Linked DNA regions of Homo sapiens: all the other regions are linked to region 4. Evidence: fine-mapped expression QTL. A gene starts in region 4. Each other region holds a variant in brackets. All regions are shown on one strand. Distances are between the middles of the regions. Region 1 holds the start of CST6 (cystatin E/M). Region 2 has its middle 17 kb from the start of EIF1AD. Region 3 has its middle 5.8 kb from the start of ARL2. Region 4 holds the start of C11orf68 (chromosome 11 open reading frame 68).

What was found. PIP is the estimated chance that this variant, and not a neighbour inherited with it, causes the effect.
Region 1: its variant is fine-mapped to the expression of C11orf68 in esophagus mucosa (GTEx, PIP above 0.99).
Region 2: its variant is fine-mapped to the expression of C11orf68 in whole blood (TOPMed, PIP above 0.99). The same link has a PIP of 0.9 or more in breast, esophagus muscle, fibroblasts, lung and tibial nerve.
Region 3: its variant is fine-mapped to the expression of C11orf68 in fetal neocortex (Walker 2019, PIP 0.95).

Annotation. Positions count from the first base shown.
Region 1 is chr11:66,007,359-66,015,458 of GRCh38, reverse strand. It overlaps CST6 (cystatin E/M), which reads right to left and starts at 3,451. Exons shown (of 3, transcript NM_001323.4): 1 at 3,175-3,451; 2 at 2,508-2,633; 3 at 1,954-2,142. The coding sequence starts at 3,414. The coding sequence ends at 2,059. RefSeq lists enhancers at 1,394-1,969, 6,355-7,149 and a silencer at 7,807-8,100. The variant G/A (reference allele first, on the strand shown) is at 3,340.
Region 2 is chr11:65,981,225-65,989,324 of GRCh38, reverse strand. It overlaps the pseudogene LOC100420020. Among named protein-coding and RNA genes, the nearest start is that of EIF1AD, 17 kb to the left of the region's middle. The variant T/C (reference allele first, on the strand shown) is at 3,492.
Region 3 is chr11:65,004,351-65,012,450 of GRCh38, reverse strand. No RefSeq gene overlaps it. Among named protein-coding and RNA genes, the nearest start is that of ARL2, 5.8 kb to the left of the region's middle. RefSeq lists an enhancer at 4,812-6,011. The variant TTTG/G (reference allele first, on the strand shown) is at 3,474.
Region 4 is chr11:65,914,198-65,922,297 of GRCh38, reverse strand. It overlaps C11orf68 (chromosome 11 open reading frame 68), which reads left to right and starts at 3,236. Exons shown (of 2, transcript NM_001135635.2): 1 at 3,236-3,388; 2 at 4,080-5,488. The coding sequence starts at 3,267. The coding sequence ends at 4,839. It overlaps DRAP1 (DR1 associated protein 1), which reads right to left and starts at 2,872. Exons shown (of 7, transcript NM_006442.4): 1 at 2,755-2,872; 2 at 2,446-2,518; 3 at 2,257-2,350; 4 at 1,836-1,955; 5 at 1,636-1,729; 6 at 1,326-1,414; 7 at 735-968. The coding sequence starts at 2,796. The coding sequence ends at 863. RefSeq lists enhancers at 2,279-3,199, 3,200-4,119, 5,679-6,238, 6,391-6,535, 6,239-6,798 and 1 more, a silencer at 2,413-3,482 and a cis regulatory region at 6,457-6,468.

The sequences.
Region 1 (8,100 bases), 93 kb before region 4:
AGAAGCAGGGCTGGATGTTGTCTCCTGGGTCCCCAGCTCCTGTCAAATGCCACCCCTCAGCTTCTCACTCCCAGGTGGGACCCAGGGTCTACTTCCCGTTTCCCCGTCTCTACCCCAATCTGGCCTCCAAAGGCCGACAGCAGGGCCTGGGAGCTGGGGCTGCTGCTTATTAGGCCCCAGCCTTGGGCAGGGGACCAGGCAGGCACAAGCAGGGTGTGAGGCCTTGTCAGAAAGGAAGGACCGTGGGATGCTCTCCGCAGCCACTGCAGTGCTGCCTGCCTGGGCCTGATGGTGCCTATACCTAGCACCCCCAAGGCCCATATCCCAAGTGTGGGTGTGTGCTTGTGCATCTGAGGAACCTCTGGGTGTGGCATGTGGGTCCTTGGGTTGTGTTTGAGTTTTGTGTGTACATCTCCAGGTTGTTTCTCTAGGGTGTGTTGCTTCTGTGCTCATGAGTTGCTAGGCTGTGTTTCTCTGGGTATGCATGTGATATCTGCCAGCATCTGAGTGTGTGCTCTGGGTGTCTGTGTGTGTATGTCTGGTGTGTTGTGCTTTGGGTGTGTGCGTGTGTATATGTATGGGGGGGTATGAATTGCAGCCACAAATTCAGATGTGCAAATGTTGCAATGCTGTTTTCTTCTTCTTTTTTTATTTTTAATTTTTTTGAGATGGAGTCTCGCTCTGTCTCCCAGACTGGAGTGCAGTGGCGCAATCTCGGCTCACTGCAACCTCTGCCTCCTGGATTCAAGCGATTCTCCTACCTCAGCTTCCTGAGTAGCTGAGATTACAGGCACCTGCCACCACACCCAGATAATTTTTGTATTCTTGGTTGAGATGGGATTTCACCATGTTGGCCAGGCTGGTTTTTTTTTTTTTTTTTTTTTTTTTGAGATGGAGTCTGGCTCTGGCGCCCAGGCTGGAGTGCAGTGGCGCCATCTCGGCTCACTGCAAGCTCCACCTCCCGGGTTCACGCCATTCTCCTGCCTCAGCCTCCCGAGTAGCTGGGACTACAGGCGCCCGCCACTACACCCAGCTAATTTTTTGTATTTTTAGTAGAGACGGGGTTTCACCGTGTTACCCAGGATGGTCTCGATCTGCTGACCTCGTGATCTGCCCGCCTCGGCCTCCCAAAGTGCTGGGATTACAGGCGTGAGTCACCGCGCCCGGCCACCAGGCTGGTCTTGAACCCCTGACCTCAGGTGATCCATCCACCTCAGCCTACCAAAGTGCTGGGATTACAGGTGTGAGGCCGGCTGCAATGCTGTTTTCTTTAAATGACATTACATTGAATCTGTCCCCTCACCCCTCCTGTGGGCGCTAGACAATCTCTGTCCCTCTGCGGCTCCTAGTCTAGCCCCTTTCAGGCGTCTTGCCCAGGGCAAGGCAAGAGAGGCGTCCTTGTGGCGTGGAGCCCACAGTGTGGACTGAGAGGCACTGTCCTAGCCTTCATGGTCTCTTGGCCTGCAGGGACTCTGCCATCGTTGGGCCACATGCAGGTGGAGGAATCTTTATAGGCTGGGAGCTCAGTGTCCTGGGTGAGGACACTGCCTGATTGAAGCCCCCCATGCCACCCATGAGCTCCTCCTGGGGCTGAGTGGGAGCACAGCACAGACTCCTCCTCAGAGTGCTCCCAGGCAGCCGGCCCTGTTCTTATCTCAGGCCATCGCCCCTCCTCTGTGAGTCTGCCGCCACCCCTGACCTCTGAGAATATTGGGAGTCTCTGGCTGTGTGTGGGGGCTCTAAGGTTTGTTCCTCTATGCCTGTGATGCTGGGGTGTTTGGGGGCTCCACATTTGGAGGCTCAGCCCTGCACCTTCAGCACTGTCTGGGCTGGGACAGCAGCAGCTCTGCTGCAGGTGGCAGGGTGACCTCTCAGCTTGGGCTGGGGAGCTGGGAGCTGCCAGAAGTGGGAGTGGGGGATGGGGGCAGAAGCGAAGCACTTGGAAGAAACCAATGCAAGAAGCAGCACTGGCCATTTATTGTGACAGATACGGCCCACGGACCTGAAGTGCCCTCCACCATGGCCCCAAACCCAATGGCCTTCGCCCTCGGGGACTTATCACATCTGCACACAGTTGTGCTTTAGGAGCTGAGAGGAGTTCTGCCAGGGAACCACAAGGACCTCAAAGTCACAGCGCAGCTTCTGTGGAGGGAATATGGGGGAGAAGGAGGGGTGAGCCCAGCCTCGACCTGTCTCCTCCCAACAGCCAGCCCTCTGCCTGCCAGGCTGCTCCAGGCCAAGAGAGGGACAATCACTGACCCAACGGATGTCAAGCCGCATGTCTGGGGCTAGACTCCAGATCTTGGTAGCCAACTTCCCCATTCCCGAGGGAAGCCCCAGCTTCCTTTCTGCACCCCATCTTGGCCCAGAGGCTGACTCATCCAGAAGGACGACAGGTTCAGCCAGACATCTAGACATCTACGTGTCCAGCCAAACCAGTTCAGGATGGACAACCTGAGTGCCTGAGGCTCTGGGGAGGGCTGGGGCTGGAGGAGCCCAGCTGTTACCTCCTGCTGCGCCCCTGCTGCCAGGGGGCAAGTGGTGAGGTCGACGTGGTCTCCAGTGACCCTGGTCTTGCGGCAGTCTGTGCTCCCCATCTCCATCGTCAGGAAGTACTTGATGCCGGCCACCAGCTGGGGGCATAGGGTAGGGGCAGGTCAGGGGTCTTGACCCTTGATCCTCACTTCTCACCTCTTGATATATTCTCCTGTTGCCCCCAGGCACTCAGGTGGGGAGAGAGGGAGAGGGGATGATTCAGACGGGGTGGGGGGGGGTGGGGGGGGGTGGGGGGGGGAGTTCTGGTGGGGATGGAGGGTGGAGAGGCCTGGAGGCTGAGCCCCACCAGCAGCCTTGGCAGACATCAGACATGCCCCATCTAGGGAGCTGCCCACTGTCCCCACCTGCCTTCCCTCCTCCCCGATCCACCCCATCAGGGCAGAGACTAGGACCAGGCAAGCCAGGAAGGCAGGTAGTGCAATACAGGGTTTAATTATGTCTTTCCTTGAAATTTAGATGGTTGTCCATCGTGGAGTTTTAGCATTAATTCGATTTTTAAAATATTGCATGAAAATATCCCGATTGCGCTTTTAGGCCCCCTTCATGCACGCTGGGGCAGCGCCTGTGGCCTCCCCCATCTGGGCCGGGTGTCCCCTCCCAGCACCCCGCCCGCCGCACCTGGCTCTGCGCCTTGATGATGTGCGTGTCTCGGAAGTAGTAGATGCTGTTGCTGCCCATGTTGTAGCTGGCCACGGCCGCCTGCGCCGCCTTCTGCACCTGCGGGTCGTCGGGCGACAGGTCCCGGAGTTCTCCGACCATGCGCTCCTGCGGCCGGGCCCGGGC[G/A]TCGCGTGGCAGCGCCAGGAGGCAGAATGCGACCAGGGCCAGGCCCAGCGCCAGCGGGAGGTTCGAACGCGCCATGGCCGTCAGTGCCGTCGGAGCCCTCAGAGCCGTGAGTGCCGAGCTTGCGGCCGCGCAGCTTTTACCCGCTGGGCCGCCCCGCCCGACGCCCGCGATGCGCCCCCGCGGCCTGGAGCTGGGGCGGGGCTCGAAGTTGCCGGGGTCCTGCGAGGTTCAGGGAGCCCAGGAGGCCGAGGGGGCGGCGCGCACCCGCGTGCCAAGACGCTTCCCTGCCCTCCAGGACACACCTGGCCCGGGGAGGGAGAGGACAGCGACAGTCCCCAGCAACAAGTGCCAGTACAGGGACGGTTCACGGGAGGGCTGTCCAGAATGAACTACCAACCGCAGCTCTTCGTGGGCTCTTACTGTTGCCACCATTTCCTAGCTGTGTAACCTCGGAGAAGTCACTTAACCACTCGCTGCCTCAGTTTCCTCTTCTGTACAATGGGTGTTGTGAGGATTCAGTGAGCTGAAACAGGTAAAGTTCTTAGAAGAGGTCTGGTGCTGGATAAACAGCAGGTGAGTAGGACACATTACTGCTCAGCGCTGCCTGACAACCTTCCTGGAGCGCGAGTGACTAATGTTTCTACCTGGCCAGGCACCTAGGCATGCTTGTAATTCCAGCACTTTGAGAGGCCAAGGTGGGAGGACCACTTGAGCCAAGGAGTTCAAGTCAGTGAATCGTGATCTCACCACTGCAGCATTCCAGCCTGGGCGACAGAGCTAGACGCTGACTCAAAAAAAAAAAAAAAAAAAAAAAAAAAAAAGAAGGCCGGGCATGAGGGCTCACACTTGTAATCCCAGCACTTTGGGAGGCCGAGGCAGGCAGATCACTTGAGGTCAGGAGTTCAAGACCAGCCTGGCCAACATGGTGAAACCCCGTCTCTACCAAAAATACAAAAATTAGCCAGGCGTGGTGGCACACACCTGAATTCCCAGCTACTCAGAAGGCTGAGGCAGGGGAATTGCTTGAACCTGGGAGGCAGAGGTTGCAGTGAGCCAAAATGGCACCACTGCGCTCTAGCCTGGGTGACAGAGAGAGACTCTGTCTCACAAAAAAAAAAAAGAAAAAAGAAAAAAAATAGTTTCCACTTTACAGAGAAGGGAAAATGGATTTGCCCAAAGACACCGGCAGGAAATAAATGGTGACACTGGCTTGTGTGTGCTGACAGTCTAAGTCAAATCTGTGGTCTTAAACCAGACTGAGCCCACAGGACACAAACTGCCCAGAAGGAGGGGGTGTCAGTCATGTCAGCTCTGCCATCTTACTGACGGCATGGCTTTGGGCAAGTCCCTCAACCTCCCACACAGAGCCTCCGTGCCCTCGTCTGAAAGACACCTTATCTCCTAAGTTTGTTCTGATATTGATGTTTCGAATCTGGCTGTCCCGTGGATACAGTGAGCATGTGCTGGAGGTACCAGCAAACAAGGCCCATGACTGTGTTTTTAAAGACTCCAATAATTGCCAGGTGTGGTGGCTCACGCCTGTAATCCCAGCACTTTGGGAGGCCGAGGTGGGCAGATCACTTGAGGCCAGGAGTTCGAGACCAGCCTGGCCAACATGGTGAAACCCCATCATAGCCCGCACGGACCTAGGGGGACTGAACAAAGCCGGGCAAACGTGGGAATAAAAGACAAGAGACAAAAGAGTATATTTGGAAGAAGGGGTCAGGGGGCACCTTGCCTCTAGTGGACAAGGGCCCTGAGCTTTACACAGCCCTCTGTATGTAGTAGGCAAAAGAGATAGCGAGAAAGGGGGAGGGTGATTGTCGGGTATGTCAGGTAATTGTCGGTCAGCACTTTGGTTCACAGCAGGCTTGTGAGACTGCATCCTTTGAACAATAGGTGCTAATTTTCTCAGTAGATAACTTCAGGGACCCCAGTGCCAAGGAGTAAGGCCCTCAGCAAACCTTTTGGTGGCAGGGCAGTGGGAGTTTGCCCACATCCTGCATTCGTGATAAACAGGTGGCTGTTTGATCATATAGCCTTCAGTGGAATGCTGAGTTGGTCACAATCCCTTTGGCCCTTTCGGCTCCCAACACCCCATCTCTACTAAAAATACAAAAATTAGCTGGGTGTGGTGGTGCACACCTGTAGTCTCAGCTACTTGGGAGGCTGAGGTGGGTGAATCACTTGAACCTGGGAGGCAGAGGTTGCAGTGAGCTGAGACGGCACCCACTGCACTCCAGCCTGGGTGACAGAGCAAGACTCTATCTCAAAAAAAAAAGACTCCAATAATTAATTGATTATTATTAATAGGTGGTGATCTATTAATCACACGGTAGCTCACACCTGTAATCCCAGGACTTTGGGAGTCGGAAGCAGGAGGATCACTTGAGGCCAGGAGTTTGAGACCAGCCTGGGCAACATAGTGAGCCGTCTCTACCAAAAAATCTAAAATAAATTAGCTGTGCATGGTGGTGCACGCCTGTGGTCCCAGCTACTCGGGAGGCTGAGGTGGGAGGATTACTAGAGTCTGGGAGGTCGAGGCTGCAGTGAGCAGTGATGGTGCCACTGCACTCCACCTGGGTGACAGAGCAAGACTCTGTCTCAAAAAAAAAAAGGAACAGATGAAAAGCAGTGTTGAAGTAGTCAACGCAAGAAAAGTCTGGATTTTGTTGAATTTTTTTTTTTTTTTGTGACAGCGCTCTGTCAGCCAGGCTAGAGTGCAGTGGCGCTATCATAGCTCACTATAACTCGACTTCCTGGCTTCAAGCTATCCTCCCATCTCAGCCTCCCAAGTAGCTGGGACCACAGGCGCATGCCCCCATGCCTGGTTAATTTTTTTCCACACCTGGCTAATTCTTATATTTTTTTGTAGAGATGGGGTCTCACAGTAGTGCCAGGTGGGTCTCGAATGCCTGGCCTCAAGAGATCACGAGATCCTCCCACCTCAGCTTCCCAAAATGCTGGGATTACAGGCAGGCCTTGGAATTATTTGTCTGCATTTTAGAGTTCAGTGTAGTTTGTATTTGTAATTCCATGTTGCTGGGGGGCGGGGCTTATTGTCCCTGGGGCACTAAGATCTTGCAGTGCTTAGAGCCTCCAGGGGCTTCACTGGGGCTTGGAAGAGGTGCTAGGTCACAGTACGTAAAGAGCAGCTGGCAACTGTCACTGTGATGGATATTGTATGTAGGCATCCAGCGTGTCACCCTCCCTTCCTGATTCTGGGCCTTAGAATCCCAGGACCACAAAAGGAAGTGATTTCCCACACAGAGACCTAGACCACAGCGGTCACTCACTGCCCAGGGCAGCTGCCAGCCTGCTACCCACCTCACTTCCTCAGCCCAGCTGTGGAAAACCAACTCTGCCATCTTCCTGGGATTCCAAGGAACCGTCACAAGTTCCTGGCGGCCTCAGGTGTCTGGCTTAAAGGGACAGACTCCAGTTTGTGGAAGTGCTGGCCGAGCTTGAGTTGATCAGGAGGATGACGCCTGGCCAGGACTCTGAGCTGAAAGCCTGGGAGGGGTAGAGGAAGAGTACCAGGATCGTGCCACAGGGGCGAGGTGGGAGAGGCAGCTCCCCTGGGCCTGCTGTGTCATCACTTGGAGCTTAGCCATGGCCACAGGTACCTCCAACAGCTCTCTCAAAAACTAGCCAAGGCCTGTCTGCCACTCACCAAGGGCACCCACTCCACCTGCCTCTGCTTTGTGCTGATGCAAAGGACTTTTTTTGCAGTACAACCTAGCAATTTCTGAGCACTTTTCACCCACTGATTCTCACAAGCACCCTGAGGGAGTACACATTATCCTCACTTTGCAGATGAAGAAGTTAATCAGAGAGGTCGGGACACTTGTCTAAGGTCACACAGCTAGAAGTGGTATCTTGGTAAGAAAAGGTGGGGAGGATTAACAATGGTAAGAACTCTTGCTGTGTGCCAGGCCTTGCGCCAGGGATTCAATATATGTTCTTTCATTCCCATAGCAGCTCTGCACAGACAATGACTATTATCTCTTCCTACAAGGAGGAAATGGGAGATCAAAGGGGAAAGGTTAGTGGTGGGTCCCGGTGCATGAGTCCTGGGCTGCTCCACAGGGGTTTGAGGTCTGCTGTGCATGGTGTAGGGGTTGTTTCTTGCAGATGGGGTGTCCCTGAGCAGACTTTCCCAGGGCCTGACTCCATCCCGTCTGGACCACTCTGGCTTCCAGGAGGTTTGCGCCAAGCGTGAGCTTGAGGTCGGTCAAATGTACTGGCCACAGGGCAGAGCCTCCAGTTTTGCAGTGGCCCAGACATCCCACCCCAGGTTGTCCACAGCACCCCTCTCTTGCCCCTGGCCTGATGGGTGGAGATGACCAGGGCAGGTTCTTGACATCTCCTTCCCTCTGGGATCAGGCTCTCCAAGGCTTCGATGCTTCCCCCAGAACCCTCTTCCTTGAACCTTCAGTTGGGCAGAGGATATTGCCCTCCCCCCAGGGCTCTGTAGCCCCATATCCTGGAAAGGAGATCTTTCAGCAAGGAAACCTGTAATCCAACAGGGATTAAAGCTCCCCTCTGGGGAGGAGCGCTCCTAAGCGCTGCTGATTCACTGGTTGAATCTTCACAACCCTGTTATCAGCTGGCAGAGGAGGCTGTAGCTCAGGGGAGTGAAGCAACTTGCTCCAGATCGCATGGGGAGCAAAGCCCCAGAATCGGGCCTGGCTGGCTCTTCAAGGCTGCCACCAGTCAAGGTTGGGAGTGACAGGAAAGAGCCCTGGTCCCCACAGGGAG
Region 2 (8,100 bases), 67 kb before region 4:
TTTGTTACTAACCAGACCAGGCTGTTCATTCTTGAACAGCATTGGGCATCACTTTGTTTTAATAATTCTTGTATGAGAAGAGCACTCTTTTCCTTCTGATAGCAATGTGGCTCCAACTACTGGCTGATGTGAGACGGTACCGGCAGTTCCTGGCTGTGTATTCTGCCAACATTTAGAGAAGCCACCAGCAGAGGTCACCCTAAGCACGTAAAACCAGCAAGTCAGCACCTTGCCTTGGGCTACAGAACCCGAAAGCATCTAACCTAGTTACAGTCTCATAAGGGAACTGCATTCTTGGTCCAATCAAAGGGTCCACATGCCCCAACAGCAGTTAGGATGCTGGTAGACCACTGCGAACACAAGTTCCACTCCCCCAGAGATGGATTCACTCACCAAGGCATGATCAGAAGTGGCCTTCCTCCCCAGCAGCATTTACAAGCTGGAGTACAGTGCTTGGAGGGTGGTGGGGAACTGCCCTGGTTTTTTTGTTTTTTGGGGGACCCAGTTTCACTTTTCTTGCCCAGGCTGGAGTGCACTGGCGCGATCTTGGCTCACCGCAACCTCCGCCTACTGGATTCAAGCGATTCTCCTGCCTCAGCCTCCCAAGTAGCTGGGATTACAGGCACGCACCACCACGCCTGGCTAATTTTGTATTTTTAGTAGAGATGGGGTTTCTCCATGTTGGTCAGGCTGGTCTTGAACTCCCGACCTCAGGCGATCTGCCCGCCTTGGCCTCCCAAAGTTTTGGGATTACAGGCGTGAACCACCGCGCCTGGCCGCCCTGGTCTTTCAGTTAGAAAGCACCCAAATTGAGGTGCAGGAGGACTCACATGGAGGTGTCTGTGGCTGTGTCCCCCAGAAACCCTGCTCTGGACAAGGATGAGGTACCCCTGTAGTTAATGTCTGAGGATTCAGGGAGCCTTGGACCTGGTAGATGGGCAGCAAGGAGGGGCTGGTAAGACCTAAGAACTGCAGCCTCTGGAAGGGTCGTCTCCCCAGGGCCCCTCAGCACATGTATTCAGCTCCCCTTCTAGTGACTGCTGAAGCTTTCAGGCCTTTGGGGGTTTTGCCTCCCTGCGTTCTTCTCTGAAGGCTCCAAGTGCCTTCTTTCATGTGGGTCTCCCATCCGCTTTGTGTCTGCCATAATTTAGCTTTCGACAATGGAGTTCTGTCTTATCGATCCTACTCACGATCTATGGCCACATCTTTCCTTCCTCGCGCCCTCCCTTCCTTCCTTGCTTCGTGATCTCGGCTCACTGGAACCTCTGGCTCCTGGGTTCAAGAGATTCTCCTGCCCCAGCCTCCTGAGTAGCCGGGATTACAGGCACCTGCCACCACGCCTGCCTAATTTTTTGTATTTTTAGTAGAGACGGGGTTTCTCCATGTTGGTCAGGCTGGTCTTGAACTCCTGACCTCAGGTGATCCACCCGCCTCAGCCTCCCAAAGTGCTGGGATTACAGGCGTGAGACACTGCGCCCGGCCCACACATTCCTTTTTTGGGGGGGTGGGCCGCAGGAGACCTGCCCATCTGTCCTGCTTCTTGCTTCTCCCTTTCACTTTGTCCAGGGCTGACAAATCAGCCGTTTCTGAGGAGCCCTCCTGTCTGCCTCCTTCCCCAGGTGGGGTGTGCATTGGCACAGAAGGGCTGTTTTGCTTCTCTCACTGCCCCTGAACAGGTGCCTGAGGAGGGAAAGGCCTGGGACCCAAGGCAGAGCAGGTGGCGTGCTGTGTCTGTTGGGCAGGGGCGAGGTGGGGAGGACACTGGCAAGGCTCCTTAAGGCCGGGGGGTACGGGGCTCAGGGACTCGGAGAATCAGCATGCAATGACAGCATCGATGTGTCCGGGGCTCAGGGAGAGGGAAGTGGGACCCAGCCTGATCTGAGTGGAGACCCTGAGTGGGGCCAACTCCGTCTTCCCAGTGTGTTTGGGCTTTGGAGACATGCCCAAGGCAGGACAGCTTTGATTCTCACCACAGCCCTGGGGGCCACGACGGCTGTCTCCTCCCTACACCATGGTGAAGACATTCAGACCAACAGAATATAGGAGTTTATCACCAGCAGACAGAAGGAACTTCTAGAAAACAAACTTCAGAAACAATGAGAAGATTTGGCTATCAGTATTTTATTAATATCATAAAATATGTTAAGAGCGCTTACCATCTTTTTCTCTGATCTGGAGTAGTTTAAATAGCATTTGAATGATCTATTATCTAAAGGTAAAGCCTTTAGATAATAACCTTTTTTTTTTTTTTTTGACGGAGTCTCACTCTGTCACCCAGGCTGGAATACAATGGCACCATCTCAGTTCACTGTAGCCTCCGCCTCCCAGGCCCCAAGCAATTCTCCTGCCTCAGCCTCCTGAGTAACTAGGATTACAGGTACCTGCCACCATTCCCGGCTAATTTTTGTATTTTTAGTAGAGACAGGGTTTCGCCATGTTGGCCAGGCTGGTCTTGAACTCCTGACCTCAGGTGATCCGCCCACCTTGGCCTCCAAAAGTGCTGGGATTAAAGGTGTGAGCCATGGTGCCGGTCAATAAACTTTTGAAGCTTTAAAAACATCTAGGCTTGGTGCCTTTTTTGATGCGTCAAAAAATAACCGCAGCAAAGATTTACGTTGTTTTTAGTTTTGGAAGCTCTTTATTAGAAGGCACCGTAGTGGGAAGACAGCAAGTTACAGGCCTGGGAAATGAAGAACCTTACAGAAGAGAGGAAGGAGAAGGCAAAACCAGTGAGCTAGTTCCTTATGCCATATGTGAGTCACCATAGGAAGAGTTTATGAACTTTCACTCATTCTCATGCTGGCCTTTTTTTTTTTTTTTTTTTTCTTTTGGAGACGGAGTCTCGCTCTGTCGCCCAGGCTGGAGTGCAGTGGCGCGATCTCGGCTCACTGCAAGCTCCACCTCCCGGGTTCACGGCATTCTCCTGCCTCAGCCTCCCGAGTAGCTGGGACTACAGGCACCCGCCACCACACCCGGCTAATTTTTTGTAGTTTTAGTAGGGATGGGTTTTCACTGTGTTAGCCAGGATGGTCTCGATGTCCTGACCTCGGGATCCGCCCGCCTCAGCCTCCCAAAGTGCTGGGATTACAGGCGTGAGACATTGCGCCCAGCCATGCTGGCCATTTTTTATATTTATGTCATTATTTAAAACGATGCTTTTTTTTTTGACAGAGCCTCACTCAGTCACCCAGGCTGGAGTGCAATGGCACCATCTCGGCTCACTGCAACCTCCACCTCCCAGGTTAAAGTGATTCTTGTGCCTCAGCCTCCTGAGTAGCTGGGACTATTGGCACACACCACCATGCCCAGGTAATTTTTAAAATTTTTTTGTAGAGACAGGGTCTTGCTTTGTTACCCAGACTGCTCTAGAACTCCTGGCTTCAAGCAATCCTCCCACCTTGGCCTCCAAAAGTGTTGGAATTACAGGCATGAGTGACCGCACCCAGCCTTCTATACTGCTTCTAATAGAATAAAAGAATTTTTCCAGATTT[T/C]GTATTAAATGGAAGCAAACAGTATGTATAATTTCATGTCCATGAGGTTCATCCATGTTACTCATTCGGTTATATGAATGTCTACCCTTTGTTGATTTTTTTTTTAGAGACAGAGTCTCACTCTGTCACCCAGGCTGGGGTGCAGTGGCCATTCACAAGTGTGAGGATAGCTCACTGCAGCCTCAAATTCCCAGGCTCAAGCAATCCTTTGCCTCAGCCTCCCGGGTAGCTGGGACTACAGATACAGGCATGAGCCACCACACCCAGCTAAATTTAAAAAATATTTTTAGAGGTGGGTCTCACTATGTCACCAGGCTGGTCTTGAACTCCTGGCCTCAAGGGATCCTTAGCCTCCCCAGTAGCTGGGATTACAGGCACTAAGAACCATGCCCGGCTATTTATTCATTCTTCTGTTAATGGACATTTGGGTTGTTTCCAGTTTGGGGCTGTTATAAATAGTGCTGTTAAGAACATTCTTGTTCATGTCTTTAGCTGAACATATGTATGCTTTTCTGTTGCTAAGCCAACATGTTCTTGTTCTCTCTTTTTAAACAAAGTTCTATAATGGAAATTTTCAAACATACTCAAAAGTAGATAGAATGGAATAATGAATCCCATTGTACCTGTTACACAGCTTCAGTTTTCTTTTCTTTGTATTTTTTGGTTTTTTTCTGAGACAGGGTCTTGCTCTGTCGTCCAGCCTGGAGTGCAATGCATGATCCTAGAACACTGCAGTCTCCAACTCCTCCTGCCTCAACCTCCTGAGTAGCTGGGACTGCAGGTGCATGCCACCATGCCTGGCTGATTTTTAAATTTTTTGTAGAGATGGGGATCTCGCAATGTTGCCCAGGCTGGTCTCCAGCTCCTAGCCTCAAGCAATCCTCCTGCCTCGGCCTCCCAAAGTGCTGTGATTACATGCACGAGTCACCATGCCCAGCCAATATCATCATTATTATTACTAACAATAAGACTATTAAATGTGTTTAAGATTTCATTATGTTAATTTAAAAATTTTTAAATAGATATCCTACTAGGGATGTGAGGTCAAAATATTCTATCTTAAAATCTTTTGAAATAATTCTGGTTGGGTGTGGTGGCTCATGGCCAGAACTGCAATGGGTGCAGTTGCCTGAACTGAATCCTTTTGCTAAAACCTACTATCGGCTGGGTGTGGCTAGTACTGCAATCCCAGCACTTCGGGAAGCTGAGGCAGGAGAATTGCTTGAGCCCAGGAATTTTGAGACCAGCCTGGGCAACATAGCAAGACCCTGTCTTTGCAAAAAAATTAGCCAGACATGATAGCATGCAGCTGTGGTCCCAGCTACTCAGGAAGCTGACGTGGGTGGATCACTTGAGCCAGGAGGTCAAGGCTGCAGCTAGCCATGTTTGTACCACTGTACTCCAGCCTGGGCGACACAGTGAGACCTTGTCTTAAAAAAAGTAAAAAGGATATTACTAGGCTGGTGACCTGCTAGTGGTGGCCGCAGATGGAGAGGCTTCCCTTGGCAATGATTTAGTAGGGTGGGATGGGAGTGGGGCTGGGCCCAGAGATGCTGACCCCCTTTGTACCATTGAGTGAAGCCAGTAAACCTGCCCCACCCCAGGCATACCCCCTTCTATGAGGTACACCCAGCCCCCTACTCACCCTGACCAGCCTGGGGAGTGAGAGTGCCCACTGCTCATCAAGGTGGAAGGCAGAACTCATCAGCTTGTAGTCAATGCAGTACCTGCAACAAAGCTGCTCCAATCCAGAATGCACCCGAGGGAGAAAGATGTCTGAAGTCCTCATAGCTGTCTCATCTGCAAAGTGACTTCCCAGCGGGTTACCTGCCCTCGGCCCTACTGCAAAGGAATCATCACTGTGGGGTCCAGAACCTCAGGTGGGTGTCAGGGCCATCCGTGGGCACTGCAGGAATACTCTTCCATGGACAGAGTTCACATGTCACCCTCACTGTTGGAAAGTGTCATCTATGGGTGCAGATATCCGTGGAAGTGACATATCTGCTACCTGCTTTGGCTCAGGGAAGCATGCGGGGCGACATGGAGGCCTCCATGCAGCCTGGTGTCTGTCATCTTGCTGGCTGTGCTGTGTTTGGGCCAGGCCCTCTTTCGGGCCTGCCTGAAGGTCAGCCACCCTGTCCAGAGCTTCTCCTGAGCCCCATGAGGACTCACAGACTGTGCCTGGTCCCTTCAAGGGAGCTGGGAGCCAGCAGCTGCCATCCTTTCTGGGTAGAGGTGGGAAGGAGCTAGGCTGTGCTCGGGTCTGGGGTAGGCAGAGCCTCTGCTGGGCAGCCGCTCCCTCAAGGCCGCTGTGTTTACAGAAAAGCAAACCAGGTGTTCTTCCTAAAACTGGGTCCCGTAAGAAGACAGTTCTGGCCTCGTCCTTCCCATACACTCCCTGAGAGCCATTCCTGTCCCTTCCACGTTCTATGGCACGACGGGTGGGCACCCCTGGGCCTGCCTCGGCTCCCTCAGGCTCTTCTCCCTACCTTTCATGTCCTGGTGTGGGGGTGGTGACAGCCGTGGCTCTGCAGACTACAGGATCTGGCCCGTATGTGACCACTTAACAGAGTATTTGTCCCTAGTCCTGTATTTCCCTTAATTCCTCCCTCCAGTCCCCTAGCTCCCAACTGTATTTAACTGCGCTGGGGCTGCGTAGGGTTGCTCTGTCCTGGGGGGTGGCCAGGGACTCATCCAGTGCTTGTAAATAAATAAGGCTACGACTCAAAGAAAAAAAAATAGACATTAGGACAGTTGGGGTCTAAAATGAGGTGGAAGTGACGCATCAACGGTACTTTTCCCAATGTCCTAGGTGGCGTTAGTTTATGTGGGAGAACGCCCTTGTTTGCAGGAAACACACACTTAGTTGGGGCGGTACGGAATCCCCTTGACCACCGATTGTCAAATGGTTCAAGGGGAAACACTTTGTATCGCTTGCAACTTTTCCTATGGGTTCTGTAGCTTTTTTTTTTTTTTTTTAATCTTAGTAGCTATCATTTTTCTCCTATGGGTTCTAAACAGTATCACGGTTTCGAAAAATCTTTTTAGCAACCTCTGCATTGCCAGGGTCCTCAGCCCCACCCTGCTCTCCACTGTCCACGTGGCTGCTGGTGGGTCTCTCTGGGAACTCCAGCCAATTAATCCTGCTCCTCCTGGGAACTTACTGCTGAATCCCCACTTTCCTGGGACCAGCCCGCCCTTCCCACCCATGGCACTGAAACGCAGAGACCCGACACCAGCAAAGCCAGGTCCTCACCCTGGTTGTCCCCTTCAGTCCACTGCCCAATGTACACCTGGGCTGAGCCCTTCTTGAGGATGCCAAGGGACAATGACAGGACCAGCTGGGGAAGGCAGGGCAGGGAACTAAAGCCCCGGGGCAATCGTGGGTTTGGCACTGAGGGGCGCCAGGGACCACTCTGTAGGATGAATGGGGGCGAATCTGCCCACCAGGCTGTGCTCCTGAGGCCTGCGTCCACTGCCCAGAAGGGCACCTTTTCCCAGGTCCACAGGGAGCCCATGCTGGCAGGGCCTGCCTGCACCCTCCAGAGCATCTCTGAATTGTGGAGGAAGAGGCAGGGCCCTGCCTGGGGCTGGGTGGGGCAGGTTTGGGGCCACAGGCAGAGGCTTGGAGGAGCCTGGAGGACCTGGGCAGGGGGTGCGCACAGGAGAGGGCAGGCCCCGAGAGCAAGAGGGGGACCCCATCCTGGTCTTGCTCAGAGCCAAGGCCACACAGCACTGGACTGCTGGGCTGTGGGCTGGGGTTGGCATCACCACACCCGGAAGGCCCATCACGAGGAGAGATGGGCCCTGGGAGGGCAGGAGCTGGGCCTCGTCCCATCCTTCACACCTGGCTGTGCCCTTGCGCAGTGGCTGCTTGCTCTTAGGGCCCATGCCCCATGGGCCCAGGCAGCCTGTCCGGCTTTGCTCTGGGTTCTTAGGCAGCGCTCGCAGATGCTCGGTACATTTTTGTTGAAGCTGTGGAAGGATCAGTCCTCAACTATGCAGTAGGGTGGCCCTAGAAGTCTTGAGATCACGCCCCCCACCCTCAACACGCACATTTTGTAGGTAAGACAGAGACTTGGTGACCTGCCTCAGGTCAGGCAGCAGTGAAGGGAAACATAGAGGGCAAACATAAGCACCCTGTCCTCCCTGAGTGCCACCCACCTGGCTGAGGCCCTGGTTGAGGGCTCACTGACCCTCAGGGCAGCTTTTGAGCCATCGCTGCCCCTCAGGTACCTGAGGGCAGGGGAAGCACCGTTGGTGTCCGGCTACCGAGCAGCAGAGGTGGGAAGCCGCCTTGGGTTCTGTCTGCTCTGGGGGCTCAGGCCTCCAGGGATTTGGTAGTCCCCAACCCCTCCCAGCCCTGGGCACATGGGCAGGACACAGCTGGGGAGCAGAGCAGAGTACACCAGGGCAGAGAAGGGAAGTCTCTGGGCTAGGACCAAGAGCCAGAGATGCAGAGAGGAAGCAAGATGGCGCGAACGAGGAGGCCCCTGGTTCACCACGTAGTCTGCCCAGTTACTAGAGCCAGAAAGTTAGTCGGCTGCAGAGCTGAAGCTGGTCTTTTCTACCCTGGCTCCACCTGGGCTCTAGCCCAGGCTGCGGTCAT
Region 3 (8,100 bases), 910 kb after region 4:
ATTGGAAAAAACCTAAGTGCCTCCAGTGAGGGCAGGTTACCTGAGCCGGGGTAGGTGCATGTGAATTCATGAAGCCCTTAAAACAGTGAAGTGGGCCAGGCGCAGTGGCTCATGTCTAATCCCAGCACTTTGGAAGGCAGAGGTGAGTGGATTGCTTGAGCCCAGGAGTTCAAGACCAGCCTGGCCAACTTAGGGAGACTCCCATCTCTATAAAAAATACAAAAATTAGCCAGACATGCTCACTTCAACCCAGGAGGCGAAGGTTGCAGTGAGCTGAAATTGTGCCACTGCACTCCAGCCTGGGCGAAATTGTCTGTCTCAAAAAAAAAAAAAAAAATTAGGTGTAGTGGTGCACATCGGTAGTTCCAGCTACCTAGGAGGCCAAGGTGGGAACCAGGGAGGATAAGGCTGCAGTGAGCCGTGATCATGCCACTGCACTCTAGCTTTCATGACAGAGTTAGACCGTCTCAAAGAAACAGAAAACAGTGAGGTGGAGCTGTAAGATACCAGTGTGGAAAGATGTCCGCGCCATATTAAATGAAAAACAAAAACAAAAATTCAGTCCTCTTTTAGTTTTAAAAATAATATTAACTGGAAATATGCCCACTTAGCAATGTTTTTTAATCTATGAGATGCATTCCATTAAGGAAGTGGATTGTAAAATTAGTGTCACAAATAGGTTGAACTGTATGAAATTGCCCATATTTGACAGTTTTGATACACAGATGTATTTCAAATGGTTCAACCTAGTAGCATTAACAAAAATGAAATAGAATGAACAGAACTGAAAACATTACTACCTTTACCCACGTAGTAAAGCTAAGTAGCGTTTGGTGAAACATTTGTTTTAGATATTTATACAGATATGTGTACTTCTCACTGTGAATCACAGTCACAAAAGTTTGAAAATCAGGGCAATGAAGTTTGGGAGAACATAAAATTATTACCTTGGGTGTGTCTATATTTTCTTTTTTTCTTTGAGACAGAGTCTGGCTCTGTCACCCAGGATGGAGTGCAGTGGCACAATCCTGGCTCACTGCAACCTCTGCCTCCCAGGTTCAAGCTATTCTCCTGCCTCAGCCTCCTGAGTAGCTGGGATTACAGGCATGAGCCACCATGCGCGGCTAATTTTTATATTTTCAGTAAAGACAGGGTTTCACCATGTTGGCCAGCTGGTCACAAACTCCTGGCCTCAAGAGATTTGCCTTCCTCAGCCTCCCAAAGGGCTGGGATTACAGGTGTGAGCCACCGCACCCAGCCTCGGATTGTTTTATTTCCTACCAGTAGCATTGAAAGAACTTGTTCAAATGTCTGGCTTAAAGTCTTGCCTGTCCATGCTGTTGTTCCCAGGGGCCACATGGTAGAATTTCAGTGAATATAAATTAAAAAAATAAAAATAAACAACATCCAAGCTCTGTGAAAAAGGGGGAGTTCAGGAAGTAACTATGTTTAGCTTTTTTTTTTTTTTTTTTGAGACAGAGTCTTGCTCTGTCGCCCAGGCTGGGGTGCAGTGGCGCAATCTCAGCTCACTGCAAGCTCCGCCTCCCGGGTTCACACCATTCTCCTGCCTCAGCCTCCCGAGTAGCTGGGACTAAAGATGCCCGCCACTATGCCTGGCTAAGTTTTTGTATTTTTAGTAGAGACGGGGTTTCACCGCGTTAGCCAGGATGGTCTCGATCTCCTGACCTCGTGATCCGCCAGCCTTGGACTCCCAAAGTGCTGGGATTACAGGCGTGAGCCACCGCGCCCGGCCAACTATGTTTAACTTTTTAAACATATTTTAGAGACAGGGTCTCACTCTGTCACCCAGGCTGGAGTGCAGTGGCACAATCATGGCTCACTGCAGCCTCAAGCAGTCCTCCCACGTCAGTCTCCTGAGTAGCTGGGACTACAGGTGCATGCCATCAAGCCCGGCTAATTTTTTAAATTTTTTGTAGAGACGAGGGTCTCGCTGTGTTACCCGGGCTGGTCTTGAACTCCTGTGCTTAGGTGATCCTCTCACCTCAGACTTCCAAAGTGCTGGGATTACAGGCATGAGCCACCCCACTTGGCCTGTGTTTAACTTTTGAAGAACTGACTGTAGCTAGAAATTGGGTGGAGAGGCATTTAAAGACAAGTAAGGGGCCTCATTACGAGCTGTGTTTTCATTTGCCTCATGGAAAGGAGGAGAGCTCTTTTTTTTTCTTTTTTTTTTTTTTGAGACGAAGTTTTGCTCTTGTTGCCCAGGTTGGAGTGCAATGGCAAAATCTCGGCTCACTGCAACCTCCATCTCCCAGGTTCAAGCGATTCTCCTGCCTCAGCCTCCCAAGTAACTGGGATTACAGGTGTGCACCACCACACCTGGCTAATTGTGTATTTTTAGTAGAGACGGGGTTTCACCATGTTTGTCAGGCTGGTCTCAAACTCCTGACCTCAAGTCATCCACCTCGGCCTCCCAAAGTGCTGAGATTACAGGCAAGAGCCAATGCACCTGGCTTTTTTTCTTTCTTTTTTTTTTACTTTCAAGCAGAGGAGCAGAAGAGCACTCTTAAATAAAATCTTTGGGAAATACCTTTGGAAGAAAACTAGGAAAGAAGATGTATAGAGCTGTAGTTATATATAATTGTGAATATGAATATATATATATATTTTTTTTTCACAAGAAAGAATCGTGAAATTAAAATACCCAAATCGTGACATCTGTGAAACCTGCTTTTGAAGGGGAAACTTCTTAGGGCCGAGTAAGTGGCTTGTAACTTGAGGATAGAGATCTACAGCCTTTTAACAAGGCATGTTTACCCAACGTCTAGAAAGAAAAATTTGGCATTATTATTATTTTTAAGACAGGGTCTCACATTATTATTATTATTATTATTATTATTATTATTATTTTTGAGACAGGTTCTCACTCTATCACCCAGGCTGAAGTGAAGTGGCACAATCACGGCTCACTGCAGCCTTGATTTCCCTGGGCTCAGGTGATCCTCCCATCTCAGCCATCTGAGTAGCTGGGACTAAAGTTCTGTGCCACCACACGCAGCTAATTTTTGTATTTTTTGTAGAGACTGGGTTTTGCCGTGTTGCCCAGACTGATCTCAAACTCTGGGCCCCAAGCAATCCTCCCATCTTGACCTCCCAAAGTACTGGGATTACAGGCATGACCCACTGTGCCGGGCCTGAAAATTTGGCATTATAGTTTTAATTTTAAAAAGTAAATCATTTTAATCAGCCATTATATTTCATGGATTACCTTTATAATAATAAGAAAAGTAACAGAATTCTATATTCTGGAACCAGAAGGAAAAAAGGCCAGGGGAGAAGACTCTGCTTAAATTAGAACTGCTGGCCATTAAGCATTAGCAAGGAGTATACCCAAGTATTTTATTTATTTATTTATTTATTTATTTATTTATTTATCTAAATATTTATTTTTAAGTTTGCTCTAGACACACAGTTTCTGTGTGTGTGTGTGTGTGTGTGTTTTTTTTTTTTTT[TTTG/G]AGACAGGGTCTCGTTCTGTCATCTAGGCTGAAGTGCAGTGGCATGATCACAGCTCACTGCAGCCTCGTCCTCCCAGGCTCACATGATCCTCCCACCTCACCATCCCAAGTAGCTGGGACCACAGGCACATGCCACCATGCCCAGCTATTTTTTTTTATTTTTAATTTTTTTTTTCTTAAATAATGATGAGGCTGGGCACGGTGGCTCACGCCTGTAATCCCAGTGCTTTGGGAGGCCGAGCTGGGTGGATCACTTGAGGCCAAGAGTTTGAGACCAGCCTGGCCAACATGGCAAAACCTCATCTCTACTAAAAATACAAAAAATTGGCCGGGTGTGGTCACGCACACCTGTAGTCCCAGCTACTTGGGAGGCTGAGGCACGAGAATCACTTGAACCCTGGGGGTGGTGGGCGGCAGCGGAGGTTGCAGTGAGCCGAGATTGCGCCACTGCACTCCAGCCTGTATGAGACAGAATGAGACTGTCTCAAAAGAAAATTAAGAAAAAGAAGGAGCAAGTTATGATTGTGTTCATGTGTGAGAAGCAGCACTTATATCTGGTGTAAATTGCTCCAGATTTCTTACACTTATAAAGGAGTCTCACGAAGAGATGGGAAATTGGGTTCTCTGGATTCTTAGTTTTCCTGTTTAACCCTTCACTGTCATTTGTTGCCCTCTGTGGACTTGCCTTATTTTTCTGCAGTGTTGCAGCAAGTGAAGTATTCTTCATGCAGCTGCTCATGAAACCTTCACCGGGAGGCGGCAGATATCTGTGTTAGAGGAGTCTCTTTCCCTTATAGATGATCTAAGTTAAATTACTACCAAGTCTAGAGTGCACCAGCTTCAGACATGAGGCCCAAACGATGTCATTGGGAGTCAGACTCTTCCTCTATCTGCTGTCCTCCGGGCTGGCTACATTCTCAGGCAGAACCCGCTCATGGGAGTAGGACGGCCACCAGAAACACCAGCTTAGTATCACCCCAGGGGGGCACATCCCCAGACCCTGTCACTTTCCCAGTAACTCCAACAAAACTCCCAGGCCTGTCCTTCCTTGGTCTGGCTTGGGTCATGTGCCTATTCCTGACATCAATCACTGTGACCAGGTGAGATTGGCAAGGCCAGGACCCCAGGCCCATGCTGGAGTGCAGGGTTTGGGTCACCTTGTTGCCCAGGCTAACCTCAAAATCCTAGGTTTAAGTGATCTCCCCACCTTGGCCTCCCAAAGCATTGGGATTACAGGCGTGAGCCACCATGTCTGGCCTATTTAATTCTTTTAACCTACATTGTTTATATTAGATTGTTTATAATAAAGTTACAGTTTTAATGAGAAGACAGAAAACCTGTTTTCCCTCTCTGATAAGACAATCTAGGATGCCAGTCTTATTTTTTGGACCACATGCCTGTGACAGAGGCACCAGCAAGCACGTGCTGGCAGCTTACCCAAGTGTAGGTTTTGTCCTACTAATTAATAAGCAAAGAACTGGAAGCACAGAGATGGCAACTGCATACAGACCATAGTTCTGCCCTCCCACTGCTAATCTTCCGGCAGGTTTTTTTTTTTTTTCTAGACAGTCTCACTCTGTCACCCAGGCTGGAGTGCAGTGGCGCAATCTTGGCTCACCGCAACCTCCACCTACCGGGTTCAAGCGATTCTCCTGCCTCAGCCTCCCGAGTAGCTGGGATTACAGGCATGCACCACCATGCCTGGCTAATTTTTGTATTTTTAGAAGAGATAGGGTTTCACCATGTTGGCCAGGCTGGTCTTGAACTCCTGGGTTCAAGTGATCCACCCAGCTCGGCCTCCCAAAGTGCTGGGATTACAGGCGTGAGCTGCTGTGCTCAGCCTATGTAGGTTTTACATATCCAAAGGCAGCCAGGTCCTCAGTGCTGGTCAGTGATGATTCAGTGGGTGTGTACATCCTGCATGCCACTGCTGCATGCCTCATAAGACAAGTCAGAGTGTTCAAGCATCTGCATTACAGGTCTTAGCCCAGCTGCCTGTGTGGGAGGCAGCAGAGGCATCCTCTCCAACTCCAGATGACAAAAGGAGGTGTTATTCACCACGCAAAGGCACATGACATCTGCAAGCTTTTCCAGAACCTTAGGAGGTAGAAAGGACTTGAAAATCTGAGATCTTCCAACAGCCATGTGCTCGTACACCTCACCTGTTGCCTGTGGCCCCTCAGGAGCAAAGCTGTGCTAGATGCTTCTTGCCTCCATGGGGCCAGGCCTGGTGAATGAACGCAGGAGCGCAGCTGCTGCCCCTGGTTGCCCGTGTCCTGCTGTGCCCTCACTCCGGAACCTAAGAGGCAGGTACCACTCTTCTCTCCGCATGACAGACCCCCCCACCCACTCACCTGGATCGCTGCAGCAGCCTCCTGACCGGCTTCCCTGCTCCCCTGCTCCAAGGCACAGGGACCCTTTTTTATTTAATTAATTAATTATTTATTTATTGAGACAGAGTCTTACTCTGTCACCCAGGCTGGAGTGCAGTGACGTGATCTTGGCTCACTGCAACCTCCGCCTCTTGGGTTCAAATGATTCTTGTGCCGCAGCTTCCAGAGTAGCTGGGACTACAGGCATGAGCCACCATGTCTGGCTAATTTTTGTATTTTTAGTAGAGATGGGGTTTCATCATGTTGGCCAGGCTGGTCTCGAATTCCTGACCTCAGGTGATCCACCTACCTCGGCCTCCCAAAGTGCTGGGATTACAGGCATGAGCCACTGCGCCTGGCCAACCTTTTTATTTTTTATTTTTATTTGTTATCATTATTATTATTATTTTGAGATGGAATCTCACTCTGTCACCTAGGCTGGAGTGCAGTGGCGTGATCTCGACTCACTGCAACCTCTGCCTTCTGGGTTCAAGCGATTCTTCTGCCTCAGCCTCCCGAGTAGCTGGGATTACAGGCATCCACCACCATACCCAGCTAATTTTTGTGTTTTTAGTAGAGACAGGGTTTCGCCATGTTGGCCAGGCTGGTCTCGAACTCCTGACCTCTGGTGATCTGCTCACATCTGCCTCCCAAAGTGCTGGGATTACAGGTGTGAGCTACCATGCCCAGCCTATTTATTTATTTTGAGACAGAGTCTTGCTCAGTGGTGCAATCTCGGCTCACTGCAGCCACTACCTCCTGGGTTCAAGTGATCCTCCCACCTCAGCCTTCCAAGCATGCACCACTACGTCCGGCTAATTTTTGTATTTTTTACAGAGGTGGGTTTTCATCATGTTGGCCAGGCTGGTCTCGAACTCCTGACCTCAAGTGATCCTTCTGCCTCGGCCTCCCAAAGTGCTGGGATTACAGGTGTGAGCCACCAAGCCCGACCAGGGACCCTTTTAACCTATGCATCAGATCATGTTCTCCTCTGCTCAGAGCTCTCTGGTGCTCTCTGTATCTTTCAGAGTAAAAGCCCAAGGTTCTCACTGGCCTATGAGCCCCTGCATGAATGGCCCGTGGCCTCCACCCCAATCTCTTGCTCCCTGGACCCTGCCAGTCCCAGGAGTCCACTACACCACTCTGCCCCCCGACCCCAGCCGGTACCTCACTGTCACGGCTCTCTCGTCTTTAATTCTTTGCTCAAAAGTCCAATGTCAGAAACAATTTTTTTTTGTTCAAATATCTCAACGAGGCTCAGTCTGACCCCGCTATTTACATGTGAAATCCCCTACCCCACACTCCCCATGGCCCTTACCTAGCTCTCTTTTCCCCTTGGTACCTGTGGACTCCCACCAGACTAGATAATTCACTTAATGTAATTATCGTCTCCCTGCTCCTCCCTAGGATGGAAATTTCACAAGGGCAGGATTTGGATCTTTTTTTAAAAAACAGATGTCTCCCAGCACCTAGAGCAGGGCCTGCCACATAAGAGATGCTCAGGAAATAGTTGCTGCGTGATAGAAATAAGGATAGAGGTTTGTGAATTGCTTTCTAGCTGCTCACACGGACAGGAAGCAGCAGGGCTTCACCAGCCTTGTTCTTACCATCAGGTTTCTCAGCCCCCCAAACTGAGGCAGACCCGGCTCCCGCTCTCTGAGATCCCCACAGATTCCAACTCCCACACCAGGCCCAAATCAAAAAAGGCATCTTGGCTGGGCACGGTGGCTCATGCCTGTAATCCCAGCACTTTGGGAAGCTGAGGCAGGTGGATTACCTGAGGTCAGGAGTTTGAGACCACCCTGACCAACATGGCGAAACCCCATCTCTACTAAAAATACAAAAACTAGCTGGGTGTGGTGCAGGGCATGGTGCTGGGCACCTGTAATCCTAGCTACTCGGGAGGCTGAGGCAGAAGAATTGCTTGAACTCGGGAGACAGGGGTTACAGTGAGCTGAGATTGCGCCACTGCACTCCAGCCAGGGCAACAGAGCGAGACTCTGTCTCAAAAAAAAAAGGGCATCTCATAGGTACTGCTTCCTGACGGGTGGTGGGAAGGGAAGACTGAGCCCTGTAGTGGAAGGCAGATGGCAGTGCTGGGGGAGGCACCCAGGTCTCTGTCTGCAGCACCAGCCTCGGTTCATTGCTAGTCCCTTGTTTAGAAAAAGGCCTCCCAAGAGGCACAGGCAGGCCCCGGCCTCCAGCACAGCAAGAAGGACCCTGAGAAGTCATTGTCAAGTTCCTTCATTTTA
Region 4 (8,100 bases):
CTTTCCACCTGCCCTTCACTACACTGGACACAGGACTCTACAGTTTCCAAGACCTGTACCTGTTCCCTGTCCCACTTATCCCTTCACAGCAGACTACAGGGGGCAGAACAGTCTCCATCAGAGAGACAAGGGGCTGCTCAGAGCAGGGCAGCAGCCCGCCGGGGGTCAGCAGCCCACCGGGGGTCAGCAGCACCACGTGGCAAGTGTCCCCCGCATGCCCAGCACTTGCAAGCTCTCCCAACTCCCTTCTGTCCGCAGCTGTGGTGCACTCAGCAGACCCAGGGCCTCCAGCCTCCCCGGATGACCCCTCTCTCCCCTCGCTGCCACCTCACCTGCCACTGACGCGGCCCCAGCTCCCAGTTTCTTTTTTTTTTTTTTTTGACATGGAGTCTCACTCTGCTGCCCAGGTTGGAGTGCAGTGGCGTGATCTCAGCTCACTGCCACCTCCACCTCCCAGGTTCAAGCGATTCTCCTGCCTCAGCCTCCCTAGTAGCTGGGATTACAGGCATGCACCACCACACCCAGCTAATTTTTGTATTTTTAGTAGAGACGGGGTTTCACCATGTTGGCCAGGCTGGTCTTGAACTCTTGACCTCAGGTGATCTGCCCGCCTCAGCCTCCCAAAGTGTTGGGATTACAGGCGTGAGCCACCGCACCCGGCCCCAGCTCCCAGTTTCATGTGGGGAAGGCAGGTGGGTGGATGGGATGGCAACCATGACGTCCTGCGCAGAGCCTGGAACAGACACTGAGATTCCCTTTTATTTTTTTTTTTAATAAATTTAAGAACAGCTCTACCTTCTCTCCTCCCCCCAGAGCAACTAAAACCAACTAAAAGGGGCTATGGTCTGGGGGGCAGAAGGCGCTAGGAGTCGTAATCTTCTTCGTCCTCTTCATCAGGTGCTGAGGGGCCCGGGGGCGCTGGGGGCAAAGGCAGAGTAGAGGCGAAGGGCAGGAAGGGTGTCGGGGGGCTGCAGGGCAGAAGGCAGGAGAGAGTCAGGCCTGAGCCCCACCGTGCCCTCCACAGGGGCAGCTGCCAAGACCCTCCCTCCCCCATCTGACCCTCCCACCACCACCCTCCAGATCCATGCGGCCAAGGCCCAGGGCAGCTCACGCAGGGCAGGCCCAGGCCCCACCCACGGGCCCTGGCAGGGTGGAGCAGGATCTTTCGGGAGAACAGTCTCCTGCCTTCAAGCCCTCCTCAGTTATTCTCCTTCCACCCCACAAATCTGCCACAATCAACAAGACCAAGGGGCCAGGGAGAACAAGAGGGGTAAGTTGGCTCTGGGGAGTCTGCCAGCACCCTCCCATGCCTCTGGGCTGCTCACCTCTGAAAGTGGGCAGAGGGGTGGCTGGCCTGGGGTGGGGGTTGTGATGTCTCCTCTTCCCCATCAGTATCTGTGTCCTCAGATTCATCCTGTGAGCACCGCAGAGGTCAGAGTTGACAAGAAAAGACACGAACCCATCACTGGGAGTGGCAGGGACAGCAGTAGACCCTCATAGCCCCAATTTACAAATAAACCAGTGAGCAAACAGGTTGCAGAAAAGGATGAGAGCTGGCCTCCTGCCAGTTCAGCCTGGGGCGAGGCTGCCTGTCCCATCACCAAGGGCAGGGCGAAGGGCTGGGGCCTCACTCACCTCCTGCTCCGAGTCTGTCCCGGACAGCTTCTTGTCCTTGCTTTTCGTTCCCATCCCACCGTTCTTCCGGCCGCCGCTGCCTGGCTTCCGGCCCCTTTGGGAAGGTACAGTCCATCTGCCCGGAGTGCTCCCTACTCCTTGGCCACCCCCAAGCCCTGTGGCCTTGGCCTTCCCCACTGTATGCCAGGCCCTGGCCCCACCTGCGGGCGCCCTTGTCCCCATCCATGTGGTTGTCTTCCCCGTCCCCCTGCATGTCGGGAACAGATGCCACCAGGTCCTTCAAGAAGTCAAACTGCTGCTCCAGCTCGATGCACTGCTTCCTGGAAGAGGTGAGGAGGGGCTGGCACTCAAGAGGGGCCCAGACACCCAAACCCGCAGTGGGTGGCAGCAAGGGGCCCCAGATGTCAGGCTGGAGCCCGGGCCGATCTCCGCTCCCGGGCCTGCCCTGCTTTACTCAGGTGGCTCCCTCTGCCTGGAAGCCCAGCCTCTCCTCTGCCAGTCTGTGGCCTTGCTGGTGTCCCGGCTGCCGCCCACCTCCCTCGCCACCCAGGCTCTGCCTTCCTCAGTGTGTGAACTCCCCGCGCCAAACCCGCCGGCCCCTCCCGGCTCCTCGCCGCTCACAGGTGGGATGTGGTCATGGTCTTCGCGTTCCGCGACTGGGTCACCTGGCAGGCCTTCTTCAACAGCGACTCTAGGAAGAGCTCGAGCGCCCGGGCTGAGGAGCGTCAAGGAGAACTCCGGGGCAGGAGAGGGCGACCCGCTGCCTCCCTCCCCCACGCCCCTCGACCCGGTCCGCCCCCGGCAGGATACAGATGATGACAGGCACCGCCGCCGCCACCTTCCCAATCTCTTCGTCCGTCTGCATGATCTTCTTGATCCGCGCCTGCGGGTGGGGGAGCAGAGTTCAGACCCCGTCGCCACCGTCCCCTAAGGGGGTGCTGGGGGAGGAAGGGGCATCCCCGGAGAAAGGGGGCGGGGGACACGGACGCGGGGAGGGCATGGAGGGGGCGGGGCGTCCAGGCCCCCGAACACCGCGGCGCGCCCGCCTGCCCAGCGGGAACTGGGCCCAAGCCACCCGGGAGCCGGGCCCACTCCTGCCGGGCTCTGCCACGTGCTCACCGGCGGGAACCGCGCGTTGTACTTCTTCTTCTTGCTCGGCATCTCGGGGCCTCTCTCGCCGCGTCGGGTCCAGCGCCGCCGCCCGCAGCCTCCCGGCTCCCGGGCCTGCTCGCCGCCCGCCCGTCGCGGTTCCCCTGGGTCCTGGTGCCGCCCGCTCCGCCCCCGCCGTTTCCCGCGGAGTCCTAGCGCCGCCGGTTAAGACGCCGCTCGCAGGGCCCTAGTGCCCTCCTCTTGAAGCCTCCTGGCCGGTGCGCGTCCCTCCCCAGTCTGGACCGCCGCTCCCGCCCGCCCCCAAGGCCAGAAGAGCGAACGTTGGCCCCGCCCCCCGCGGCCCGCCCCTCCCGGGGTTCCCGCGATGGCCCCGCCCCCGAGTCAGCACCTCCCCGTCGGCCCCGCCCCTTCCCCTGCCGGCCCCGCCCCACAGCGCGGCCGCTGCGGCCGCTGAGGCCCGCGGCTCCGCCCTGTGGCTGCGCCTGTCTATAAAGTTGTTGTTGAGGTGGCGCGGCGCTAAGATGGCGGCGGCGGCGGCGGCGGCCGTGGCGGGGGTGGGGCGCGGTGGCGGTGGCGCGGAGCCACGGCAGGAGCGGAGCCGGGCCCGGGGCTGGGCCGGCGTCGAACGCAGCGAAGGCCGGAGGTGACTGCGGGCGGCGGGAGGGGCAGGGCAGGGCCGGGGCGGGAGCACAGCTCGGGCCCGTGGGCGTTAATGGCGGCGGGCGCGGCACGGCCGGAGCCTGGCTCTCCTGCAGGCTCTAACAAGCCCTGGTTCGAGTCTGGGAACCGCCCCATTGGCCTCGGAACGGCCTGTAACCTCTCTGGACTTCAGCGTCCTCGTCTGTAAGTGGGCCCGATAACGCCTGCCTGGGAGGCCTGGCCTTACAGAGCCGGCCTCGGGAGCTGCGCGAACGTGCGCTTCTTTGCGTTCCTCTATTAAATGCCAGCGCACCGGATACCTGCCAGGAAAAGGGGGCCTTGGCAGGGCCGGGAGGTGTAGCTGGGGCTGGTTGCTCCCACGCCTGGATTCACCCTTCGGCCCTGCCACGCACTGCAGGTGTGACCTTGGGCAAGTCCTTTTTCTCAGCCTCAGTTTCCTTTTCTGTAAGTCAAGGAGAATAGTAATAACTGCAGCAACCCTTCTGGAGCGCTGACTCCTCAGGCATCTAATTTTCATAGCAGATCTACGGGACAGGAACAGTTGTTATCCCATTGTAAAGATGAGGCAACTGAGGCGCATCGACAGTAACTCTTACTCAAGGCCACAGTTTAATCCAGTGCCTGGCATCTGTAGTTATTGTCTCAGACCCTGCCCTGACTCGGTTCCCTCACAGCAGGATGGAACCAGGTGAGGAGCTGGAAGAGGAGGGCTCTCCAGGTGGCCGTGAGGATGGCTTCACCGCCGAGCACCTGGCTGCAGAGGCCATGGCAGCTGACATGGACCCCTGGCTAGTGTTTGATGCCCGCACAACGCCTGCCACTGAGCTGGATGCCTGGCTGGCCAAGTACCCACCATCCCAAGTTACCCGCTATGGGGACCCCGGTTCACCCAACTCAGAGCCTGTGGGCTGGATTGCAGTGTATGGGCAGGGCTACAGCCCCAACTCCGGGGACGTGCAGGGCCTGCAGGCAGCCTGGGAAGCTCTGCAGACCAGTGGGCGGCCCATCACACCGGGTACCCTGCGCCAGCTCGCCATCACCCACCACGTGCTCTCGGGCAAGTGGCTTATGCATCTGGCACCGGGCTTCAAGCTGGACCACGCCTGGGCTGGCATTGCCCGGGCCGTGGTTGAAGGCCAGCTTCAGGTGGCCAAGGTGAGCCCACGTGCCAAGGAGGGTGGGCGCCAGGTCATCTGTGTTTACACGGACGACTTCACGGACCGCTTGGGTGTACTGGAGGCGGATTCAGCCATCCGTGCAGCGGGCATTAAGTGCCTGCTCACCTACAAGCCTGATGTCTACACCTACCTGGGCATCTACCGGGCCAATCGCTGGCACCTCTGCCCCACTCTCTATGAGAGCCGTTTCCAGCTTGGGGGTAGTGCCCGTGGCTCCCGAGTGCTTGACCGTGCCAACAACGTGGAACTGACCTAGGGGGGCCAAATTGGGGAGACTGCCCACTCCCCCCTCCATGCTGGGGTTGGATCCTCCTGTCTTCCTCCTTGTCCTATGAAGGCCACACCCCCCAGCTCTGGGGACTCCTAGGTCACTTGGGAACTACCTGCATCTTCAGTCCCCTTGAACTTCTGCCCTCTGTTCAGGGCTGACACAAGCCCCACAGGCTGGGGGGCTCCGGTTCCCTGAGGGATGAGCCTTCAGCCTCCCTTTGTAATGCTGCTCCTCTCCACTGCCCAGCACCATGAGTTGGGTGCAGACACCTAGAAGGAGAGACTTCTTGGAACGCTCATCCCCCGCTATACCTCCCCTTCCTCCTGCATCTCCCCTTCTTTCCTTCCCCCTCAGGAGAGAGAAAACTTAGTGCTTCCAGCCCTTCTTGGAGCCTTCATGGTCCAGGGGTAGGGGCCCCACTGGCCTGAGCATGCCATTTTGAGGGGAGGGTAGTTGTGCCTACTTATCCCCTGGCAGAGGGGATGCCAGGACCATGGACATGAGGCTTGCCCATCCCTGCCAACTTACACAGCCTGTACCACTGTCCCCCCTTCCTTGGCTACTTTGACATGTGCCTGCTCCTGGCATTTCAATAAAACCCGGCTTGGGTCTGTGTCTTGAGTGTTTTTTAAAATACTGTCTTGGTGGTTACCTGCTTTCGTTGCTAGGGAGGGGCAGGGCCAGGAGAGACTACCCCCTTGACCCGGCCAGGCCCCCATAGCTGCCCCTAGCAATAAGTTGTGCCTCACTGCTGAGGTTAGGCACTGTCTCTAAGAACCTCTGCAAAACCAGCCCCACTTCCCCTCCATCCGTAATCAGTTTCTCAGAGATTTCCCATAATTCCAGGGGTTGACCCCTCCAGGAACGTCTAAGGGGCCACTGCTAGCCCTCAGGGTGCATTTGTGCATATTAGAGAAAGGTACCAAGTCCAAGCAGTCCTAGGCCGGGGTACGCGGTTTGGGGAGCAGAGGATGGGATGGGCTGGATTTCAGCACCTTAGGCTAGACATCCTTGTGCAGTGAACAACCTGCACAACCCTAGGTAGTCTCTCTGGAAGCCCTGCCATTCATACTCTCCTCTCCTACCACCCTGACCATCATAGGGCCCACTAGACAGTTTGCAAAGCGCTTTCATATGCATTAAATTTAATTCTCCCAACCCCTTTGGGAGATGTTGGCCCCATTCTGTGGTCAAGGAAATTGAAGCCAAGAGGGGAAAGGAGTTTTCTCAGTGTCATGCGATGAGGTGGGCAGAGCTAGGACTTGCATCCCAGTCCCTTCCTCGGGCAATGAGGTCCCTGAGCCCACTGAGGAAAACAGGGAGCTTTTCATAACTCACAAAGCATGTTCACTTACGTGATCTCACTGGGCCGCCCCACTCTGCTGGGACTTGCTGTAGCCTTGGAGCCTGGCTCCTGCACCCCGCCACCTCTCCAGCCCCGTGCCTGGCCCTGGCCTTGATTGGGGGCCAGGGTGTCTGGCAGGGAGCCCCTTGGGACACAGCTCTCGTGCCGTGCCGGGACTGACTCAGCCTCCAGCAGTCTCACCGAATCGGAATTTAGAGCAGGGGAGCGGAGATGCCACCGGGCTGACTGGGTGGAAGTGGCTGAGTCATGAGATGCTGGCTCAGTGCTCTCTCCAGCTTCCTCCCCACCCTGAGCTTCCCCAGGGCTGAGTCCCCCTCTGCCCAGCCTTGGGAAGTCCCCAGAGCTGGGTGGTCTCCGAGTTGGAGCCTGGTGCTCTGCCTCCCTCGGGCTGCCAGGGCCTTGCACTCCACCAAAGTGGGCCAAGGTACCTCATGGGTCCCACAGAGATGCCCAAGTGGGGTCAACAGCACTGGCTTCTTCCATAGCTGAGTGTGTCACACACACAGCCCCTCTTCATCCCTGTGCCTTGCCCCAGCCCACAACTCACCGTCTCCCAAGCCACTTCCACCCTCCTCTTGTCCCCGCTCCGTTCTCCACAGCCAGGTCAACAGATCCCTCCTGCAGAGTGGCCATGTCCTGCCAAAAGCCCTTCCATGGCTCCCCACAGCCTGCAGGATGGAGTCTGCTCTCCTGCACTGGCCGTGACCTGGTTCCCATAGACTTCCCCGCTTCCCTCGGGCACCCCTTTCTGCCCATGCTCACCCAGCTGGAGCCATCTGTTACTTCCTTCACCCCCTGGTGCACAGCCCTGGGCCTCGGGCTGTTCCTTCTGCTCGAGCACCTGCCTTGCAGCCCTGATGGCCAGAGTGTGTGGTGACTTGTGTAATGGCTTGATGTCTGTCTCCTGCTGGCCCCTAAGCCCCATGCCCACACTGTGCTCTGTGAAGGCAGGAACAGTGGCTAGATCTCAGCCCTGTTCCCAGAGCCTACCACAGTGCTTGGCCAGAACAACGACTCCGTAAGTTATTACATGAATGAATGAGGTAATTGGCGACTCCAGCCCCTGCTGGACCCTTCTGCCTCATCCCATCTCCATTCCCTGCTTTGCACTCCTTGTCCAAGAACGTTGAGCTGCGTGTGACTTTCTTGTACACATGGTGGCCTTTCTCACTTTCACGCCTTTGCTGGTGCCGTAGCCTCTGCTTAGCTTACCCTCGCCCACTTCCCTGGCTGGCGCCACGTTGCAGACCCACTGGCTCAGGTGTAATTCTTCAGGATGCTTCCGGATCCTTCCTCACCCCAAGTGTTGCAGGCATGTCCCCTAGGCTCCCACAGCTCCCGCCTGCCTGCTGCTCTCATCTGTATGTAAGATCCCTTCAGACAGTGACAATGCTTTATCCTCCAGCATCCGGCATAGGGCCCAACCTAGTGCAGATGCCAAATTAACATTTTTTTTTTTTTGAGATGAGTCTCGCTTTATCACCCAGGCTGGAGTGCAGTGGCGCAATCTCGGCTCATTGCAAGCTCCGGCTCCCGGGTTCACTCCATTCTGTTGCCTCAGCCTCCCGAGCAGCTGGGACTACAAGGTGCCCGCCACCACGCCTGGCTAATTTTTTGGATGTTCAGTAGAGATGGGGTTTCACCGTGTTAGCCAGGATGGTCTCGATCTCCTGACCTCATGATCCTCCCGCCTCGGCCTCCCAAAGTGCTGGGATTACAGGCGTGAGCCACCGCGGCCGGCCTCTTTTTTGAGATAGGGTCTTGCTATGCTGCCCAGGCTGGAATGCGATGACATGATCATGGCTCACTGCAGCTTTGAACTCCTGGGCGCAAGCGATCCTACCACCTCAGCCTCCCAAAGTGCTGGAATTACAAATATG